2 separate regions of the Homo sapiens genome follow, and region 1 is linked to region 2. Evidence: fine-mapped QTL for protein levels in blood plasma. A gene starts in region 2. The other region holds a variant in brackets. All regions are shown on one strand. Distances are from middle to middle.

Region 1 (2,902 bases), 31 kb after region 2:
CCTCACAATCTGTGATTCCAGGAAAAGCTATGAATAATGGGGCCCTACCCCTTCAATCACAGTCCCCACTCAGACCACCCTCACTCCCAGGTATCTGAATCTAGAGTGGGAACACAGAGGGTAAGAAGGCAGGTGGGGCTGGGCTGTTTCACAGAACTTCTGCACTGGAGGAAGCCATCACAGGCATCATTACCACCTTGTGTTACAGATGAGAAAACGGAGACTCAGAAAATTAAATGTCTTCTCCGACACTGCCCAAGGTCCCTGGCAGAGCCAGGATTTAAACCCAGGTCTGTGTGACCCCAAAGTTCACGATCGTTCCACTCACCAAAATAGTCACCATGTGCAAAGCACTTATTAGGGGGAAACAGCTTTAGAGCTTGCCCATTTCACTCAGTGAATTAGATGCAGAGGCATATGTGACATTCAGTTATTTCTCATTTGCATGCACAGGATCATGGTCTTTCATCTCCCCACCTTGCTGCAATTCCCTGCATCAGCTCACCATTGTGGTCCTCACACGCCCTACCATTTGCCAATGAAGGGGTTTTAGTTTTTCTCAAGACACATTTTTCTGTGTTTTCAGGTCTGCCTTCATCTTCATCTTCATGAGACAGGCACTAGCCTATGTGTGTCCTCTATTTTCCTGAATTGTTCTTTTCTCAACCAATTACTGCATCCCCTTGGAGTCCCCCCACCCCCACCTCCAACTGCCTATAAAAGCAGGCTAGAAGCCAGGGTTTCCCTGTAAATACTGAAATTGTTCTTCCATTTTGCCATTACACATTATGCTTTAACCAAATAAAGCATGTCTGCTGAGGACACTGGAGCCTCTTCCGAGATAGTTTATTTTCCTATGACCTGCGAGCTTCTTTCTTCCTGATGAATCAGCACCGCCGCTTTGCTCTCAATGCTGCAGCAGTAACAAGGCATGAAGACTGTCAAGCCTCAGCCCATAAATGACTCTAAATGCACCTATTATTCCACTGTTTTTCCAGCTGATTCCTCCTGAGTTCAATACTGTGTTCTAGGCAGTTGTAAGTGTCAGTATATCTTGCTGAGGGCTCAGGGGGTTCGAAAAAGCATTTGATTTCTTGGGTGTACTGCATGCTTTGGGAAAACAAAACCAAACAAATAATTCTTATTTGAAAATCACATTTTCATAATCCTCAAAGGGAAAACTTAAATGCAGTGTCGACCTCATCCAATTAGCCCAGAAGCACATGTCAGGTTGCGTCTGTGAAGATAAACTCCAGAGGAAAAGACCCGCTTGACACACCTCTTGAGGGCTTGAAAAAATACTTTCAGTTCTATCCAGCCACCTGCCTTGATGTACTCAGAAGCTATGGAAGGTGCACTGTAATTTAACATAGATTGAGCACAATTATTTCCTCTTTGGGGGTCTAAGGGTCATGATCAGATGTGCTTGGGTTAATTCTTGCTGTCACTTCTCTGCTTCTGCTACAGACTCCATCAACTCCTCTTTTTTTTTTTTTTTTTT[G/TG]TTTCATTTTGTTTTAAGTGCCTGCCTTTTCTAGGCACTGTGGGAGGGAGACACAAGAAATGGCCAGATAGATCCCTTTCAAGGGCCTCTCAATACCAGTAATGTAAGCAGATTGTATCACTGGTGGCTGGACCCTGAAGAGAATTTCAATTCTAGCAGAAGCAGACGGAAATAGGCTTTTAAAATCCTTCCTCGCCGGATTCTAACCTGCTTGGGAACTGGCTGCCCACTTTTGCTGGTCTCCTAGCAACCAAGCCCCTTCCTCCGCAGGCCCTGCTGCTGTCCACTGGGCCAGGCTTGGGAGAGTCAGCCTTTCTCTGCCCTCCCCAGCACAGGGCAAGGATGTCACCGAGGGAACGGGAGTAAGCACTTGGAGAAATTGCTAAATGGTCTGTAAATGTACGGTAAAGATGACAATCCAAATGGGGGCACCTTTCACACATTTTTCAGGGGATCTTGGGATTTAAATTCATCCTTCTGCTTCCTTCCAATAATAGCTGGCATGCATGGAATGCTTTGTATTTTACAAAACACTTTTGCATCCATTACCTCATGCGATTCCCAACAAGAGCCTTGAGAGACCTCTACAGTGGGGAAAAGCATGGGGAAATTTTGTGAGTTCACTTCCAGATGCATTTAAAGGACTCAAGAAGAAACTCCAGGTCGTTCCATTAGTAGTGTCTTAAAAAGGGGAAAGAAACTCTAAACACCAATTTTTTCCATCATCATCGTCATTGGTAATTTTAAGTTCTGACCAGCTGAGCTTTGCCTTTGTGACAGGGAGTTGAGTGTCACCTAGGAAAGGTGATGTATCTCTTTCTCTCTCCTGCCCTATCACTCTCCTTGTTGCTTACACAGCAGCCACTTTGGGATTAAAATTGATGGAGGCTCTTTGTTGATGACAGCTTTGTTCAGAATTTTGCCTGTAATATTCTTCCCTTCTTGTGATAAAAGGAAAAGCAGAAGGGAGAAAAGCTGTCTTGGTCTGCTTGGGTCACCATAACAAATGACCATAGACTGGCTTAAACAATGGAAATGTATTTCTCACAGTTGTGGAGTCTAAAAGTCCCAGATCAAGGTCCAGCCGGGTCTGTTTCTGGTGCGGCCTCTCTTCCTGGCCTGTAGACAGTTGCCTTCTCTCTGTGTCTTTACATGGTGGAGAGAGGGCTTAACCTGAACCACCTCTGCACCACCTCTGCAAAGTCTCCATCTTTAATATAGTCACATGGAGGGTTAGGGCTTTAACATTTGATTATGGTCCTGAAGGATGGAGGGAAGAGAAGCAAAATCTTTCCACCGACTCAAAAATTCTGCACAGTCTGCCTTAGCTGGAGATGGAGGTACGTCTTTGAACTGTGGGTCAGAAAATTTGGCTCAGTGATAAAAATCTTTTTGTTTCCC
Region 2 (2,902 bases):
ACATTAAAACACTATTGTTTACGTAGCTGTTTAGAGAATACCGAGTGGTACTTTACGTTTAAAGCTGTTCTTTAACATTGGCAAAAGCCATGAGCTACATACACACTCTGCAAGGAAATGAAAAGTTTATCAGTCAAGTTACCTTGCAGTGTGATTTTAAATATTATTTCATATAAATCAGGGAAAAACAAGTACTGGTTCAGCGGTAAGACTGCTTTCAAATGTAAAAATATCATATCTCACACGAGTGAAAGTTTTGTCAAGTTTTATGGTACACCACCTTGGTCAAATAATTTTAACAGATTACATGCTAATTTGCCTTTCAACTGCTGAGTGTATCCTGCTCAACAATACCGTAAGGTCCTTCCCGGAAGGCTTGGCATTTTTGTTCGTTGGTCCCCTTAATAGGAATGCAGGTGGTTTCAGTAATCTATAATATTCCAAAAAAGAACTGAAAATGGCTTTTGAGGTTCAATGTTTATACAATGCCATCTGAAAACATTGTACAAGTACCTAAAATCTGATGCTTAGACAATTCCCTTGGTTAAGAGTGGTTAATAGGCTGTAAATATAGTTGTAATCCCCAGGAAAGAAGAGGCATTTCATAACGGAAACACTAACAGATACGATCACTCCGAGCCGCTCTCCAAGGCGTCCTCATCGTTAAATCAACACCAGGGGTTGTGAGCGGGCAATTGTGCCCCTCTGACACCCCCGCTCTTCCGCAGACTCGGGCTCCAATCCCCGCGCGAGGAGTCCCTCGAGACTAGCCAGCTCTTCCTCGAGACTTCGGAAGCTGGGAAATCCCTGGCCAGGGAACCAGGAGCTCAAGCCCCCTCCCCTTTCCTTTCCTGAAAATTAATGAATTGGCCGTCTGATTGTTTATTTAATGAGGTGTGTAGTGGCCTCTACTGGTGCTAGTGTGAGCACAAGAATGTCCCACTCTTACAAGTGGGATGAGCCTGGGGGAGGGGAGAGAGGCGAGGGGTGAACCTGCCTCCAGGTACAAAGCTGGGAACTAGACCCCTGCGCCCCCGACCTGCCCCCCGGCAGCCGCCCCTTCCCCGGTGGCGCCCCCTCTCGCCCTTCTCCTCCCCACCACGCGCGATCCCCTTTCTCTTCGGCAACCGGAGCCGAGGCAGAGAAGTTCCTGCACGTTTCCTCCTGGATCCTAAACAAAAACACCGCAGCCGCGGCCGCCTGAGCCGGTGCCGCGCCCCCGCGAACCCCCGGGCCCGCGCCCGCCGCTTACCTGGGGACTGCGGCGCGGAGCCGCTCCTGGCGGCCGCGGCGCCCGGCGCCCGGCGCCCGAGCAGCAGCAGGCAGTAGAGCCAGAAGGAGGGGGTGCTGAGGAGTCGCCGGGCTCCCCGCTCCGCCGCCATCTCTTCCCCGAGAGTGAGCGGCAGCGGCGGCGACAGCGCCGCGGAGCCCTTGCCTCCTTCCCTCCCGCGCGCCTCAGCCGGTCCCTCGCTGCAAGCTCGGCTCCCGCGGCCGCCGCTGCTCCAGCCCAGCCCGGCCCGGCCCGGCCCGCGCAGCCCCTCTCGCTGGAGGGGAGACTCCAGGGCGCCTCCCTCCTGCAAGGGGGCGGGGAGGGGAGGAGAGCGAAGAAGGGGAGTCAGTACATTCCGGGGCGGGGGGGGGGGGGCGGTGGGTCGGTCTCCAGGTTCCAGGCGCCGCCACCCGCCGCCGACTCCGGCTCCACACACCAGCGCGAGGGGGGCGGAGACCGCGGACGGCGGGGGCGGGGGCGGGGGCGGGGGGCGGGAGTCCCGGGCGCGCACACGCGCACGCGCGCGCCTCGCCCGCACCCCCTCGGCTCCGCGCGCGGCCCGCCCCCGCTCCAATCCCGGCTGCCGCCTCTCGGGCCGTGGCGGGCCCGCTCCCCTCCCCCTTCTCCCCGGAGCCGCTGACGGGTGCGGGGCGCGCGCGCCGGGCGCTGCTGCTGGCGTCAGGGAAACCCCGGAGAAGCGGATCCTCCTGCTCCTCCCGCCCGCTCGCCGCAGCCCCTCGGCTCCGCGCGCCCCCGCCTCCTCCTCCTCGCCTCGGGGACAAATTCCCCCCTCACCTCCCCAGATGCCTCTGGCTGCAGAGACCTGAGGGCGAGAGGCGCTCCGAGCTCAGGCTGGTCCGGGAGGCCGGCGTGGGCGCGCACCTCTGCACAGTCCGGGCCTGGAGCCTCTATATAGGGCCTCAGAGGAAACCGAAAGGCCTCCGGGAGGAAACCTGGGTGCGCAGTGGGTCGGCCCGGGGATTTATGTGCTCGCCAAAAACAATAGCGATCCCGCCCGACTCTTGCTGGGCCCTGGCGCGGCTCCCGTGGGAGGGGGCCGGCCGCGCAGCCGCTGACCTCCGGCTCCCAAGCCGGGCCGCCGTCGCCGCGCGCTTCCCCCGGGCAGCGCCGGGACCCGCCCGAACCGCGCCCCCACCCGCATCGCTCGGCCCGGGTCCAGGGAACTAGGCACAGACAAAGGTGCCCGCTGTCCACTTCCTCAGCTCGTGCGGGGGCCCCGACCGAGCCCTGGGACTCCCCGGGGCCAGTCTTCTCGCAGTAACTGCTACGTTTTACCTGTACCTTTGCGGGACACTTGGCGTTTTCCTACCTGGGAATCACGTCTTTCGCTGATAAACCAAGGAGCAAGTGGGATATGATTTTAAACCACTTAGTAATCGTGAGGCAGCACCCAGGCTACACAAAGTTAGGAGAAAGCAGTTTGTAGTTCCACTGCTGATGAGACTATTGATCATTTTATATACTGCACCCATGAAAAATTTTTAAAGAAAATTTATTTGTATGATTATGCAAGCAGAGTCACGTTTGGTGGTTGATAGGCGTTGGGTTTTATTCACTCTTCTGTGTAGTCGATAACCGAAATGTCTTGCTTCCCACAAGAAAATGGCTATT

The links. A credible set is the group of variants that fine-mapping cannot tell apart. PIP is the chance, under the fine-mapping model, that this variant and not a neighbour inherited with it causes the effect. Sun 2018 read protein levels with aptamers (SomaScan).
Region 1: its variant is the best candidate, but not a certain one, in a credible set for the plasma level of the NEO1 protein (Sun 2018, PIP 0.68).

What each region holds. Positions count from the first base shown.
Region 1 is chr15:73,020,350-73,023,251 of GRCh38, reverse strand. No RefSeq gene overlaps it. Among named protein-coding and RNA genes, the nearest start is that of NEO1, 31 kb to the left of the region's middle. The variant G/TG (reference allele first, on the strand shown) is at 1,502.
Region 2 is chr15:73,051,156-73,054,057 of GRCh38, reverse strand. NEO1 (neogenin 1) reads right to left here and starts at 1,595. Exons shown (of 29, transcript NM_002499.4): 1 at 1,253-1,595. The coding sequence starts at 1,382. RefSeq lists silencers at 1,276-1,655, 1,886-2,205, 2,296-2,365, 2,426-2,475.